Regions from separate parts of the Homo sapiens genome. Here region 1 is linked to region 2. The links come from fine-mapping of genetic effects on plasma protein levels. A gene starts in region 2. The other region holds a variant in brackets. All regions are shown on one strand. Distances are from middle to middle. Region 1 overlaps VTI1B (vesicle transport through interaction with t-SNAREs 1B). Region 2 holds the start of ARG2 (arginase 2).

Evidence for each region. PIP is the posterior inclusion probability: the model's chance that the variant is causal. The UK Biobank Pharma Proteomics Project read protein levels with antibody pairs (Olink). The fine-mapping took linkage between variants from a reference panel, not from the people measured, so its PIPs are less certain.
Region 1: its variant is fine-mapped to the plasma level of the ARG2 protein (UK Biobank, PIP 0.92).

What each region holds. Positions count from the first base shown.
Region 1 is chr14:67,664,502-67,671,499 of GRCh38, forward strand. All of the region lies in intron 1 of VTI1B (vesicle transport through interaction with t-SNAREs 1B), which reads right to left. It also overlaps a transcript of GPHN not described here. Among named protein-coding and RNA genes, the nearest start is that of VTI1B, 6.6 kb to the right of the region's middle. RefSeq lists silencers at 4,154-4,283, 4,294-4,343. The variant G/C (reference allele first, on the strand shown) is at 866.
Region 2 is chr14:67,617,616-67,626,740 of GRCh38, forward strand. ARG2 (arginase 2) reads left to right here and starts at 2,305. Exons shown (of 8, transcript NM_001172.4): 1 at 2,305-2,473; 2 at 3,279-3,351. The coding sequence starts at 2,363. It overlaps LOC124903331 (a long non-coding RNA gene), which reads right to left. Exons shown (of 2, transcript XR_007064218.1): 2 at 8,252-9,125. It also overlaps a transcript of GPHN not described here. RefSeq lists a silencer at 2,235-2,304.

The DNA of each region.
Region 1 (6,998 bases), 46 kb after region 2:
TTTTTTTTTTCTTGAGACAGAGTCTTGCTCTGTCTCCCAGGCTGGAGTGCAGTGGCTCGGTCTCGGTTCACTGCAACCTCCACCTCCCAGGTTCAAGCGATTCTCTTGCCTCAGCCTCCCGAGCAGCTGGGGTTACAGGCACCCACCACCATGCCCGGCTAATTTTTTTACATTTTTAATAAAGACAGGGTTTTGCCATGTTGGCCAGTCTGGTCTCAAACTCCTGACCTCAAGTGATCCATCCACCTCAGCCTTTCCGCTGCAAAAGAGAACAGATGAGCCGGGCTTATGGAGAAATGGCATGTGGGTATTCAGTTGCTGTCCTGAGATTTTCTTAGATGATTTGTCTACTCTGATTTTCATCTTAAGACCTGGCTTTTTTTGAGACTGTGTCTCACTCTGTTGCCCAGGCTGGAGTGCCGTGGCGTCATCTCAGCTCACTGCAAACTCCAACTCCTGGGTTCAAGTGATTCTCATGCCTCAGCCTCCTGAGTGGTGGGGTTACAGGAGTGCACCACCACAACCAGATAATTTTTCTATTTTTTGGTAGAGAGGGGGTTTAACCATGTTGGCCAGGCTGGCCTTGTGTGGTCCACCCATCTCGGCCTCCCAAAGTGCTGGGATAACAGGTGTGAGCTAGTGCACCCGGCCAAGCCCTGACTTTTGAACCCAATCCTACATAAGATGTAATGTCACTGTAATGCTTTATATGGATTTACATTTTGTTAATCACAACAGCATCTAATGTCAGTTATATCTTTTTTTTTTTTTTTTTTTGAGACAGTCTCACTCAGGCTGGAGTGAAGTGGCATGATTACGGCTCACTGCAGCCTCGACCTCCCAGGCTGAAGCAATCCTCCCACCT[G/C]CTCAAGCAATTCTCCTGCCTCATCCTCCCAAGTAACTGAGACTACAGGTGCAGGTTACCACACACAGCTAATTTTTTTTTTGGTAGAGATGGGGCCTCACTATGTTGCCTAAGCTGGTCTTGACTCCTGGGCTCAGGCAATCCTCGACCTCAGCCTACCAAAGTGTTGGGACTACAGGTGTGAGCCACCACACCTGTCCTTGTATCCCACTTTTTAAGTGACCATAAATCATTTTGGATGCGTATATTCTATAATCTCAACTTGAGACCAAGTTCCTCTGAAACATGGAAATTTATTTTGTCATTTTTACTGTGCCATAGATCCTAGAACTATAAACCTCCTTAGATGTGGCTACTGCCTGAAAGGGCAAATGACAACACACCCTTTACTATGTCTCATTCATTGTTGTGTGCCACCCCCTTAATATACACAAGATACTTCAGACAATTTTCTCCATACCACTCACAAAACCCATGGCTGTTTGTTGTTTAAAAAAAGGTAGAGGAAGGTTCACCATGGCAAATGGTATGACTCTTGACCATCTATGATGTAACTGAAATGAGCACCAAGGCAGCTATTACTGTTCCTGAGGGGGATGTGTTCTTAGCTACCAGTACTGAAATAATACCGACAGTCAAAAACGGCTACTTCCATGGAGCAGTATTGTATTATTTTGTAATAAGCTGTCCCAAAAGTGCTGAGCATCATCACTGCTCTGAGTCAGCACATCTCCAAACTCAGGCATGCTCACTCCTGATCCAAGCCAGACAGTAAGAAGCAGTACTGTACACATATGTACATTCCCTTCCTAGCTCCTTCCTTTCCTAGACTTTTCTACAACTGTGTTTAGTCATAAATTCTCCTCCTTTATTCTTCCTTTGTTAATGGGTATGAAAATCCGCATTCTCAAGAGGCAAATTCTAGAATGATTCCAGGAATGTAACTACATAAATGAAAGGGGGAGAAGAAGACCACAGAACCTCTCTCCTTTCACTAACTTCTGTGTGCTAGAATATTCCATTTCCTACCTGATTTCATAAAACACATTTCCTCTTATAAGTGCTCTATAACAACATACTTTTACAGAACTTCACTACATTTATGAGATCCTTTCTGGACTTCTAAGATTTAAAACAAAACAAAACAGAAACCTTTGAAATCATTTCTTGTGATGATAAAGCCAGGGAGGCAGATAATTCAAGAGACTGATCTCTACCCAACTGAGAGGGATCAATAGCAGCTTTTTAAAAATTCTTTAGGCTCAGAATTATGAAACCAATGAATGCTAGAGCTAGGATGTACCTCAGCGATCATCTAGTCTAACTTCCTGCCTTTACCACTGAGGACACTAGACCCTGGAGAAACTGAGTGCCTGCCCCACAGTCATTGGAACAGCAAATGTATGGCAGCACTAGTTCTGGAATGCAAGTGTGCTGACTCCCAGTCCAAGGCTTTTCTGTATATTAAACAACTGTATACTGTATACAACTGAGGGGCATTTTTGTGCTCCCAGAGTATAGCCTTTAACAACTGGTAAAATCTGTTGAAAAAACAAAAAACCTCTTCCTCTTTTTAGGGAGTTAGAATTGATGCTACAATCAACTACAAACAGCAAGGTGGCATCCTGGGGAGAATGGGCACCATGAACAAGAATGAACCACTTCAAATACCACTATCCCCCACCCCACAAGCCTGCCCAAATCAGTCACATGTGAGGGACTCTCTGGGACCAACTCTGTCTCCTTTGGGAAACTGGGTGGATGCTGACATGGAGTAAAATGGAAACAGACAGCTCTGAAAAACAGCACTACAGAAAGCCTACCTTAATGTTTGACCAAGGTGGGCAGCCTCTCTTCCTTATGGGGATTTGAATTTCCAGCCCAAGAATGCCTAATCTTGGCCCTTTAAAGTTGTGGAAACAACTTCAGTTTCACCAGCTCATAAATATGTGGTTACTTTGCTTTTGGTGCCTCACTGTGGCAAAATGGAGGACTTACACCCTTTATTTGTACACCGTGACAGCTGACTAGATCCCACACCATACAAGAGTTAAAAGCAACAGAGATCCCTCTCAACCAACCTGTTTCCTCATCTGCAAATAGGGACTATAAGACTACTGACCTTGTAAGGGTTGTTTGAAAGGGTTAAAAGAAATAATACACATAACATTCACTTAGCAAGTGCCAAATATAATAAGGGCTCAATAAATAGAAACCACCATTGTTTCTGAAAGTAAATACTTAGGAAGAACCTAAGAGCAAAAACCAAATTCAGTAGAAAATATGAGGAGTTAGAGGCCAGGCGCGGTGGCTCACGCCTGTAATCCCTGCACTTTGGGAGGCCGAGGCGGGCGGATCACGAGGTCAGGAGATCGAGACCATCCTGGGTGACACAGTGAAACCCTGTCTCTACTAAAAATACAAAAACTTAGCCCGGCGTGGTGGTGGGCGCCTGTAGTCCCAGCTACTCGGGAGGCTGAGGCAGAAGAATGGCGTGAACCCGGAAGGCAGAAGTTGCAGTGAGCCGAGATCGCGCCACTGCACTCCAGCCTGGGTGAAAGAGCAACACTCCATCTCAAAAAACAAAAAACAAACAAACAAAAAAAATGAGGAGTTAGAATAGTTAAAATTCTACAGTCTGTAAGTAATTGGTGTTTATCGGCCAGCTGATTATAGTACTCCATAGTGACTATTTTTTCTGGCTCTGAAAATAATAGGGTCTTGTGTTATACATACTGATCTAAATGATTTAAAATGGAAAACTTTCAATATTTTTATGATACACGTTAAGACATATGGAGAGATGTCTTCAGGTATGACAAAACCAAAACTAGAAATCATGACCACAGGCATTTAACATTGATTAGATTAAGAAATTATAGCACATTATAGTACTCTGAGGTAATTGGAGAGACCTCTTCAGAGGTTGTAAAACCAAGAGTAGAAATTATGGCCATAGGTATTTAATGAAATATTAAATGGATTAATAATTATTGTAAGTGGTAATGGACAGTTACACAAAAACTTCCTAAAACAGGACACATTGTCTCTAGTATCATTCAAAGGCAGAAAGTGAATGGAGACTGTACTTTGGAGAAATACAGTTTTTGTTGTTTTAATAGGTGGAATATACCCATTTTTAAAGTAATGAAAATGTGGACAACAGAATAGAAATAAATCACAATCATATATCAATATTTTCTTTCCAACAATTCACACATTCCATCATCCAATAGGTATCTATGAAGCACCTAGTCTGTGCTAGGCACTGTTCTGGTACTTAGGAAACACAGTGAAAAAAAGACAACATTGAGCTTATATTCTAGCTCAGTGGCTTTCACACTTAGCCTTCATCAGAAACCCCCTGGAGGGCTGTGAAAACACACTGCTTGTTAAAACTTTCTGATTCAATAGGTCTGGGGTGGGGCCTGAGAATTTGCATTTCTAACAAGTTCCCAAATGATGCTGATGCAGCTGGTTCATGGACCACAATGAAACCACTGTCCTAGTGAAAGGAAGACAAACAATATACTGTAAATATCATAAATGTGGAAAGTGTCTAATATGTCAGAAAATAAGTACTCTGGAAAAAAAAAGGTAAGAATAGTTGTATACAGGGCTGGTATTCTTAATTTTCATTTAAATAAAATGGCTAGTAGCTCTATTATCAGGCAGTATTCTAAGGACTTTACATATATTAACTCATTTACTCCTCACAAAAACCCTGTGAAGTAGATACTATGATTTATCCCCATTTGGCAGGAAAAACTAATTGGGTTAAAGTAACCTGTCCAAGGTCACACTGCTACTAGAAGGTGAATTTAAACTCAGGCAATCTGGCTCTTGAATTCTTGCTGTTAAATATTATACTATATGGCCTCTCAATTCACATACTTCTTCATAATTTTTTTTTTTTTTTTTGAGACGGAGTCTTGCTCTGTCACCCAGGTTGGAGTGCAATGATGTGATGACAGCTCACTAAAACTTCAAACTGCTAGACTCAAGTGATCCTCCTGCCTCAGCCTCCTGAGCAGCTGGGATTACAAGTGAGCAGCACCACACTACTCAGCTTTTTTTTTTTTGTAGAGATAGGTCTCACCATGTTGCCAAGGCTGGTCTCCAACTCTTGGCCTCATGCAATCCTCCTGCCTCAGCCTCCCAAAATGTTGGGATTACAGGCACGAGCCACCACACCTGGCCCCCGTATGTTATTTTTAATGGCAGAAGAAGAAACATTTTGTAAGGCTATATTATGTCATGATCTCTGTTCTACAGGTACCTTTGATATTCTCATCCACAACCCAAACTCTGCTTCTCCTCTTATGTTTCTTACTTAAGTTCATCATTCACCCAGTTGACCAAGTGAAAAAATGCAGACACCCTGGAACCTTTCTCCCTCACTCCTCATATCCATTGAGGCTGGTTAATTTCTGCCTCAAAACCAACTCTTGGGCCGGGAACTGTAGCTCACCCCTGTAACCCCAGCACTTTAAGAGGCTGAGGTGGGTGGATCACTTAAGCCCAGGAATTCGAGAACAGCCTGGATAACATGGGAGACCCTTACTAAAAATACAAAAAATTAGCCAGGCCTGGTGCCATGCACCTGTGGTCCCAGCTACTCGGGAGGCTGAGGTGGGAGGATCACCTGAGCCCGGGAAGCCAAGGCTGCAGTGAGCAGTGATGGTGCCACTGCACTCCAGCCTGGATGACGGGAGACAGGAGTGAGAACCTGTGTCAAACAAATTCCCGTTAGCAAGGTGACTGCCCAAAAGGCTCTTAACACAGTCCCCTGTACCCAGATTCTTGTGCTCTCTCTTGTCCTGTCTAGCCATTAATGCCCTCCTTCTAAAAGAAAATCCACATCAATCAACTGCTTTACGTCCTTTACTGACTTTCCATATCAAGTCCAAATGTCTCAATGTGACACTGAGATCCCCTCACAATCTGGCTGTTTCACCTGCCCCTCTACTACTACTTTCCCACATACATTCTAAGCTCCAGAGTTGGGAGTATTCCATGTTTTACTCCTGTGTTGCCTCTTCGCATTTCCCATCTAGCAAACTCCCATTCAATCCCTTATATTCAGTTTGAAGTTTTTTGAAGCTTCCCCCTCTTCCCCATGCTCAAGTCCAGCCCTTTTTATGGTCTCAGAGAACTTTATTTTAGGATTAATCACACACTTGGTTGTAAGGTTTGTTACCTTTTTTTTTTTCTGAGATAGAGTCTCGCTCTGTCGCCTGCAATCTCTGCCCCCTGGGTTTAATCGATTCTCCTGCCTCAGCCTCCTGAGTAGCTGGGACTACAGGCACATGCCACCACACCCAGCTAATTTTTGTATTTTGAGTAGAGATGGGGTTTCACCATGTTGACCAGGATGGTCTCCATCCGTGACCTTGTGATCCGCCCGCCTAGGCCTCCCAAAGTGATGGGACTACCAGCATGAGCCACCGTGCCCGGCCGTTTGTTTCTTTTTAAGGTAAGAACTCTGGAAGTCCTCAGAGCCTAGACAGTGGCTGATACATAATAATTCTCAGTGTTTATTGAAAAATGACTGAATTCAATTACAGAGCATAAGCTACATGCAAGGACTGTATTATGTACATTATGCTGTGCCTAATAATTCATGATGGGCATTAAAGCTCTGAAAACTTTATGATGTGGTCTCTGAACTAGAAAAAGAGGATTCAGAGATGAGGCACCATGTGTTTGCTTAGATAAATTCAATTTATTCAACAAACATTTATTGAGCAGTGTGAATGAGGTAGTGAATAAGAGGTAAAGTTGTTGGACTTATTATAATTCTAGGGATATGTATATATTTTCTTTACTTATCCATTAAACAACTATGTCTGTTACCAGCAACTTAGAGTATTTTGTGGTTGGGCGCAGTGGCTCACACCTGTAATCCTAGCACTTTGGGAGGCCGTGGCGGGCAGATCACTTGAGGTCAGGAGTTTGAGACCAGCCTGGCCAACATGGTGAAACCCCGTGTCTACTAAAAATACAAAAATTGGCTAGGTGTGGTAGCATGCGCCTGTAATCCCAGCTACTCGGAAGGCTGAGGCATGAGAATCACTTGAACCCAGGAGGTGGAGGTTGCAGTGAGCTGAGATTGTACCACTGCACTCCAGCC
Region 2 (9,125 bases):
TAGTGGAAAACCACTGAAAATGACATGCAGGATTAAAGTAGCACTTTGGAAAGGTCGGTCTGGTGATCCACAGTAAATGCTCAAGAAGCAAGAGGTTTTTTGTTGTTTGTTTGTTTGTTTTTGAGACAGAGTTTTGCTCTTGGTGCCCAGGCTGGAGTGTAATGGCACAATCTTGGCTCACCGCAATCTCCGCCTCCCAGGTTCAAGCAATTCTCCTGCCTCAGACTCCTGAGTAGTTGGGATTACAGGTGCCCGCCACCATGCCCAGCTTTTTGTATTTTTAGGAGAGACAGGAGTTTCTCCATGTTGGTCAGGCTGGTCTCAAACTCCTGACCTCAGGTGATCCACCTGCCTCGGCCTCCCAAAATGCTGGTTTTACAGGTGTGAGCCACCGCGCCCAGCGGAAGCAAGAGGTTTTTGCAGTAGCACAGGAAGCCCTGAGGCAACCTGTGCCAGTATCAACTTCAGAAAACATTTAGTAAAGGGGGAAAAAAATTGAATGTAGTGATGGGCAAGAAATACAAAAGTATCAACATAATTTCAATGAACTGAACAAGTATGACAGTATCTGTGACTGTGAATCCCTGACCACGCCCCCACCCATTCCTGGAGGGCTTGTTAAAACATAGGTTACCGGTGCCCTACCCCTAGAGTTACTGATTCTGTAAATTCGCGAGTGGGGCCCAAGAATTTGCACTTCTAACAAGTATCTGGTGACCCATAGCAGGTGCTCAAGAAGCAAGAAGTTTCTTGCTGCTTTTTATTTTTATTTTTTTGAGATAGGGTCTCACTCTGTCACTCAGGCTGAGATGCAGTGGTGTGATCATGGCTCACTGAAGCCTCGACTTCCTGGGCTCAAGAGATTCTCCCACTTTAGCCTCCCAAGTAGCTGGGGCCATAGGCACATGCCACCACATCCAGCTATTTTTTTTTTTTTAAATTTCTGGTAGAGTCAGCGTCTCACTATGCTGCCCAGGCTGGTCTCAAACTCCTGGGCTCAGGAGATCCTCCTGCCTTGGCCTCCCAAAGTGTTGGAATTACAGGTGTGAGTCACCATGTGCAGCCAGTTTCTTCTTGATGCTGTATCCAGGTGATGCTGATGCTGCTGGTCTGGGACCACACTTTCAGAACCACTGCCTTACAGTGGTTATTTTGCTAAGGCCTCAAAGACATCATTGTTAAACCAGCAGGGGGAGACAATATACAACAGAGCCTCTAAAAATAAAATGTCTTAGGGTACTAAAACTCCTTTGGAGTTATGGTGTTGCCATGGAGACCTCTGAACTGTTTTGGAGAGCAGTGTGTAAATTGACATGAGGTGAAATAAATTTCAGGAGTTTATGTAAAAAATTAATTTGGTAGAAATAATGTCTAGATTCTTGCATGCCATGGTGTCTTGGTTAAGAACTTGGAATGTGGAGTCAGCTCTGCCACTTACAAGCTATGTGGCTCTGGGAAAATTACTTATGTCTTTGATCTTTTCTTCGCTTTAAAAAGTAACCTGTGGTATAGAATTGGAGGGGTAAAGTTCTTGGAATGCTGAGATTATTAAATTATTATTCGTTATTAAAACTCTAGTTACTTAGCACTTACAGCTCTTTAGCTTAGAAATAGTCTAAATACGTTGCTATATTTGCTTTTTTAATAACCAGCGCTCCCGTTATTCAGGTAAAGAATTAAAAACATCTAAAAGGTAATTGCTTTGTAAATCCTAACCTCTTTCATTCAAAATACCTAAGGTAGATGGCTCTTTATAAACGTGCCCGGCTCAGAGAGCTCTCATCTATATTATATCTCCGAATCCAAATTTCACTGATGCCCAGTCTAAGAGTGTTTCCTGGGCTTTGAGCTTTGAGATAGAACGAAGCAGGTGGATCCTGGCTTTGACTAGGCAGGGCCAGACCAGGCCCGACCCAGCCAGCCCATCCGTAGAGTCAGCATCAGCCGGGCGTGAAGATTGGTGTCGGCTCCTGCGTTCCGCCAAGTTCAGGAACCTGGCATGGGCCGGCCGCCTCCCGCGAAGGGACACACCTGTTGGTCACCGCGCTCTTACTGGCCAGACCCGGATATTGGCCTTCTGGCGTCAGCGGCAGGGGCATGTCCCTGGCCGGAGAGCACAGGCCAGAGTGGGGTGACGTCATCGAAGGCACGTCCCAGCCTTGCAGAGCGGTGGGCGGGGCCTGCGAAGAAGGTGTGCCGGGGGCTGGTTGGAGGCGCGGGCGGCGGGGCCAATGTGGCGGTGACGTCACGGGGCGGGCGGACGCTGGCGCGGGTAGGTAAGAGCAGCGGCGGGCGGTGGCGCTCACTCCCGGCTTCCAACCGCGCGGAGCCTCTGCCTTGGAGATTCTCAGTGCTGCGGATCATGTCCCTAAGGGGCAGCCTCTCGCGTCTCCTCCAGACGCGAGTGCATTCCATCCTGAAGAAATCCGTCCACTCCGTGGCTGTGATAGGAGCCCCGTTCTCACAAGGGCAGGTGAGAACTGGCACCTGGAACCGCCGGGCAGGATCCTCCGCCCCCTAGAACCTGGAGACAGCGGCGGTAGGGTGCGGGGGACCGGGAGGCGAGGAGAGGATGGGGAGAAATGGCGAGGGGAAGAGCTGGCCGGTTCCCGCTACTGGGCACCGTGGGAGCATGTGGGATATCCTCCGACAGAGAATGGAGAGGGAGGGAGGGAGGGGTGGAGGGCACCCTGTTTGGGATGAGGGTGTGTTTCTGCGGCCTCCCCAGAAAGACCGAGAAAACGGTGGATGCAGCTTGGGGTAATGGAGGGGAGAGAATGAGGAAGAGGATTCCTTGGAGGGGCTGGAGGAGGCGAAACTGGTCAGAATCCCCAGTGGAGAATCGATGGAGGAGGTTAAAAGGAGCGACCGAGGATTTAAGTCTTCTGGATCCATTCACTCAGAATGAGCATTAACTGGGAGGGAAATTGGAGCTGGCCTCTCCAGCGCGGGAGGTGGGGAGGAGCTGTTTTGTTCTCTTCAATGAAGGAAACCTGCAGTCGGGAGCGCTCAGTCATCTCGAAGCCCAGAAGCCCAGTCTCTGGCCCGAGCCAGCCCCACACACGCCTAGCTCCTGGATCCTAACCTGGCTCAGCCTCTCCCGTCTTGGCTTGGGCAGCTGATGTGATTCCAACAATGGAGTTGGAAGGACAGTCATTGATGGAAGGGCTGATGCTGTCACAGGTTTTCAGAGGAACCTGCTGGGAACTAAATGTACCAAATGGGTTTTTTTCCGACACCTTCTCTACCTCTAATTGTGTAATTTGTGTGACTGACAGAAAAGAAAAGGAGTGGAGCATGGTCCCGCTGCCATAAGAGAAGCTGGCTTGATGAAAAGGCTCTCCAGTTTGGGTAAGTGGTTAGATTTTTAGATATTAGTGCAGGACTAGTAATAGACCACTTCAGAGTCTTTTCTCTGACATCCAGGGACTACACAGCTTTGTGTTTGGGAACAGTCTGCCACATCCCGCATCCTCCTTTGGATTCCGTCTGCGGCTTAAGATCAAGGAGTCATCAGGGAAAGTCTTCTTGCAATAAAGAGTGTGTTGGAAGGCAAGGAGGTAGAGTGAGGCAAGGTCTGAACAGCTGTCAGGGAATGCAAGTGATGCTAAGAACACTAGCTCCAGCTTCAACTGCACAGTCAACCTTTCCCCTTAAAATTCCATTTTCCTAACTCCATCTTGAGATGCTTATGATTTATCAGTCTCGCCAGTTTTCTGTCTTCAAATTATTTCCTCTCTAGGGTTAATATCTTTATTACTGGAAGCAGTAATATAGGTCTTATAGGCTCACTGATCTTATATAGAACTAATAGGCTTAGATCTATATTTTCCGTGTTCTTTTTTTTTTTCTTTTTTTGAGATGGAGTCTTATTCCATCACCCAGGCTGGAGTGCAGTGATGCAATATTGGCTCATTGCAACCTCCACCTTCTGGGTTCAAGCAATTCTCCTCCCAAGTAGCTGGAATTACAGGTGCGTGCCACCACACCTGGCTAATTTTGTATTTTTAGTAGACACGGGGTTTCACCATGTTGGTCAGGCTGGTCTTGAACTCCTGACCTCAGGTGATCCGCCCACCTCAGCTTCCCAAAGTGCTGAGATTATAGGTGTGAGCCACTGTGCCCAGCTATAAATGCCATTTCCATAGTAAGGGAGAACCCTTCTCTTAGTAACAGCACCAAATTTGAATACCTTTATAAGCAGGGTGCGGTGGCTCATGCCTGTAATCCCAGCACTTTGGGAGGCCAAGGTGGGTGGATCACCTGAGGTCAGGAGTTCGAGACCAGCCTGACCAATATGGCGAAATCCCTTCTCTACTAAAAATACAAAAATTAGTCAGGCATAGTGGCATGCACCTGTAGTCCCAGCTACTCAGGAGCCTGAGACAGAAGAATTGCTTGAACCTGGGAGGCAAAGGTTGCAGTGATTGTGCCACTGCACTCCAGCCTGGGTGACAGAATGAGACTCCATCTCAAATAAATAAATAAATACCTTTATGGCAGGAAGGTTCTTCTTTATATCCAATCTAAATGTTTCTAGACTCTGTTCAAGGCCATTTGCTCTGTTCATGTTTGGATCATTCACATATCTTTTCTGGTGACATAAGTGCAAAATGTGAGGCAGCACGGAGATTATGGAGATAATAACACATAATCTAAGTTAACTCCCCACTGTTGCTCTGAACTCTTCTCTGCTGGTCATAAGTCCATTCCAAGTGAAGTCATCTCCTTCCAAAAGCCAGAGGAATAATGAAGTCACTGAAACAGCCTTGAGTTGAGGTGTCCTTCATATACCTCCACCTACATATGGATATGGTGACATGGATTCAATATTCGAACCTTGTTTATTAAATAATTGCAGTTTCTTCTTTACTAAGGCCTCTCTTAGTCATTTTAATAACTCTCCAAGTTCACCACTGAAGATTAAAGACAAACTGCTAAGATTTAGTCTTCTTTTAATGTGTGGCAAGTTAACTAATGGGAGGAAGTTTTTATTCCCGCCCATAAATGAGCATACTGTCTCTTAAAATAGCTTGTACACACTGCCTTTTTAAAAGAATCATTTTACACTGAAGACGACAATCTCTGGTTATCACTGTTTTTAAATCCTGGAGACATCTCTGCAGTCCATCTGAACTCGGCCAAGCATTGCTCAAATTGCTCTACCGTCTGTAGGTTCTGCCTTAAGAGATTCCTGACAAGAAGCGGTTTCAGCCTCTTCTGGAGGAGACCTCTATAACAATCAGCTGAGGCTGCTGAATGAGGGGGAAGGGCACATTTGTAGCAGCTTCTCTTACTCATGCTTTGTAGACTTCCTTTCCTGTCACAGCTCTTGGTATTTTTCCACTCCAACCCAGGGGAAGCCATTCTCCTGTAAATATTACTCCCTCTTTAAACTCCAACCTAAAGTGATGGTGAGGCTTCAGTTTATATGGCCTTCCCTTTGACTTTTTTTCTCAAATATATTTAATTGTACAATTATATCCTTACTGTGTAGCTGACTGGTAGCTCAGTATCACCAGCAGTCTGAAATAGAATCTCATAGCCTATTAAATAAAACTGTGGCTCTCAGCAGATTTCTAGCATGTGGTTTTGGCTAATCTCCTGGAATATATTGGAGAAAAGTACCAAGAGACATTTCAGTTGCTCTGTTCCTAAACAGTACCAAAATAACTTGAGTGTTTTGAACACTTTCAAATAAACAGCATGGATCAAATTTCAAAGGAGAGACTCATGGAAAGGTAACTTTCACAATCCCTTTGTTCCTTGCCTTTGCTCTGATGTCACAGGCTGCCGGTGTTACCATAGCATGAGTTAAATTTCCTGTTTTCTCTCGAATGAATGTATTTGACTTAGTGTCTGGGCTTGTTTTATTTCCTTGGGCTTAGTAAGGACACTCAACAGTACTCTCAGGTAACCTTTTTTTTTTTTTTTTTTTTTTTTTTGAGACGGAGTCTCGCTCTGTCACCAGGCTGGAGTACAGTGATGCGATCTTGGCTCACTGCAACCTCCGCCTCCCGGGTTCAAGCAATTCTCCTGCCTCAACCTCCAAAGTAGCTGGGATTACAGGTGCCTGCCACTGCGCCTGACTAATTTTTGTATTTTTAGTAGAGATGGGGTTTCACCATGTTGGCCAGGCTGATCTCGAACTCCTGACCTCAGGTGATCTGCCCATCTAGGCCTCCCAAAGTGCTGGGATTACAAGAGTGAGCCACTGCTCCCAGCCACCTTTTATTTTTCTTTGAGAGAGGGTCTCACTCTGTCACTCAGGCTGGAGTGCAGTGGCATAGTCACAGCCTACTGCAATCTCAACCTCCTGGACTCAAGCGATCCTCCCACTTTAGCCTCTTGAGTAGCTGGGACTACAGACACATGCCAGTATGCCTGGATAATTTTTTTTTCTTTTGTAGAGCCGGGGTCTCACTATGTTGCCCAGGCTGGTCCCGAACTCCTGGGCTTAAGAGGGCCTAAGAGAAATGAAAAGGCATTGCTCTGGCAAGGCTGAGGAGCAGTATATCTGCACTCGATTTTGGTTAGCTCTGAGAACCATGGTAATTTGTGAATTCTAGCCACCTGTTACCATGTGAGAAGGAGTGGGCCTTGTACTCTTTTCTCCAGTTTTTCAAGAAAAGCCAGAAATTTGCACTTTAATGGGAAATCTGTGTTGTTTTAAAATACTGTATAGTGACACCATTGAAAATGGTGGCATAGGACCTCCAAAAAAGGAATGAGAACTGTATTAGTCTGTTCTTGTACTTTTGTAAAGACATACCTGAGACTGGGTAATTTAAAAAGAAAAGAGGTTTAATTGACTCATGGTTCTGCAGGACATACAGGCTTCTGCTTCTGGGGAGGCCCCAGGAGAATTATAATCATGGCGGAAGGTGAAGGGGAAGCAAGCACGTCTTATATGGCAGGAGCAGGAGGAAGACAGCGAAGAGGGAGGTGATACACACTTTTAACCGGATCTCATGAGAACTCTATCATGAGACAGCACTAGGGAGATGGTGCTGAACCATTAGGAACAACCCCCATGATCCAATCACCTCCCACCAGGCCAGACCTCCAACATTGGGGATTAAAATTCAACATGAGATTTGGATGGGAACACAGAGCCAAACCATATCAAGAACATTGGCAAAAATGATCAGAATCAGCTTTTTCAGAACTCTGGAAATTAACCAAAGGCTTGCAGCAATCTGGGGAGCATTTATTCAAGAAAAACATTGAATCTCAGTAAGAACATTAAGAATTGTGGCATTTTAACTTGCCCTGTTCCCATGCTGCCTTTTCCCAGATCAGCTGTAGCCTGGACAACCGATAGCCTGCAATCACAGTGAAACCAGGAGGCTGGCAGTTACTGCAAAAGGGAGAACAGAGGTGATACTCCTCATAGACCATCCCCAGAAAATTGTCATTTGACTGGTCTGATGGTTTCCTAAAATTGTCCATTCACAAGGCTGTCTTTATTTGACCAACACAAGTCAGTAAGGAAAGAATAGTCTTCAGTAAATGGTGCTGGGATAACTGGATATCCACATTAAAAAAAAAAAAATCCCTATCTCACACCATATATGAAAATTAACTCAAAATGGACCAAAGTCCTAAATGTAATGCTGAAACCATATAACTGTTAGAGAACATAGGACTGGATTTTTGCGACCTTGGGTTAGGTATTGGTTTCTTAGCTATCCCATCAAAATCATAAGTGACAAAAATTAAACTTGACTTAGCTAAATTAAATACATCTATGTTTCAAAGAGCACTATTAAGAAAGTGGGGGCCAGGCACGGTGGCTCACGCCTGTAATCCCAGCACTTTGGGAGGCTGAGGCAGGCGGATCACCTGAGGTCAGGAGTTCGAGACCAGCCTCAACATGGAGAAACCCCATCTCTACTAAAAATACAAAAAAAAATTAGCCGGGCATGGTGGTGCATGCCTGTAATCCCAACTACTCGGGAGGCTGAGGCAGGAGAATTGCTTGAACCTGGGAGGCGGAGGTTGTGATGAGCCGAGATTGTGCCATTGCAGTCCAGCCTGGGCAACGAGAGCAAAACTCCATCTCAAAAAAAAAAAAAAAAAAAAGAAACTGGAAAGACTTCATCAATGTAATGAAAAACCAAAAAAAAAAAAGAGAAAAGGTAAAAAGACTGCCCATAGAATTGGCAAAATATTTGCAAATCATATACCTGATAAGATTCTAGTGTTCGGCAAACATAAATAAAATAACAACCGTAAAAAGACAACCAAATTTAAAAATTAGCAATAGATTTAATTAGCCACTTCTCCAAAGAAGTTATACAAATGGGCAGTAAACACATTAGTCATTACGGAAATGCAAATTTAAAACTACAATGGCCGGGTGTGGCGGCTTACACCTGTAATCCCAGTACTTTGGGAGGCTGAGGCGGGCAGATCATTTCAGGTCAGGAGTTCAAACCAGCCTGATCAACATGGTGAAACTCCGTCTCTACTAAAAAATACAAAAATTAGCCGGATGTGGTGGCACACTCCTGTAGTCCCAGCTACTCAGGAGGCTGAGGTGGGAGAATCACTTGAACCTAGGAGGTGGAGGTTGCAGTGAGCAGAGATTGTACCACTGCACTCCAGCCTGGGCAACAGAGTGAGACTCTGTCTCAGGGGAAAAAAAAAACCACAAAACTACAATGAAATACCATTTCACACCCACTAGGATGGCTATGATAAAAAAGATAGACAATACCAAGTATTGGTGAGGGTGTAAAAAGATTCGACCTGTCATACACTACTGGTGTGAATGTAAAACTGCAGCCACTTTGGAAAACAGTTTGGCAGATCCTCAAAGTTAAATGTATAGTTACTGTGTCCTCAAGCAAATCCATTCCTATGTATATACCTAACAGAATTCAAAACATATATTCACACAAACTTTTTTTTTTAGACAGTCTCGCTCTTTCACCCAGGCTGGAGTGCAGTGGTGCAATCTCGGCCTCAGCCTTCTGAGTACCTGGGACCACAGGCAAGCACCACCATGCCCAGCTAACTTTTGTATTTTTAATTTTGCCATGTTGGCCAGGTTGGTCTCGAACTCCTAGCCTCAAGTGATCCACCTGCCTCAGCCTCCCAAAGTGCTAGGATTATAGGCA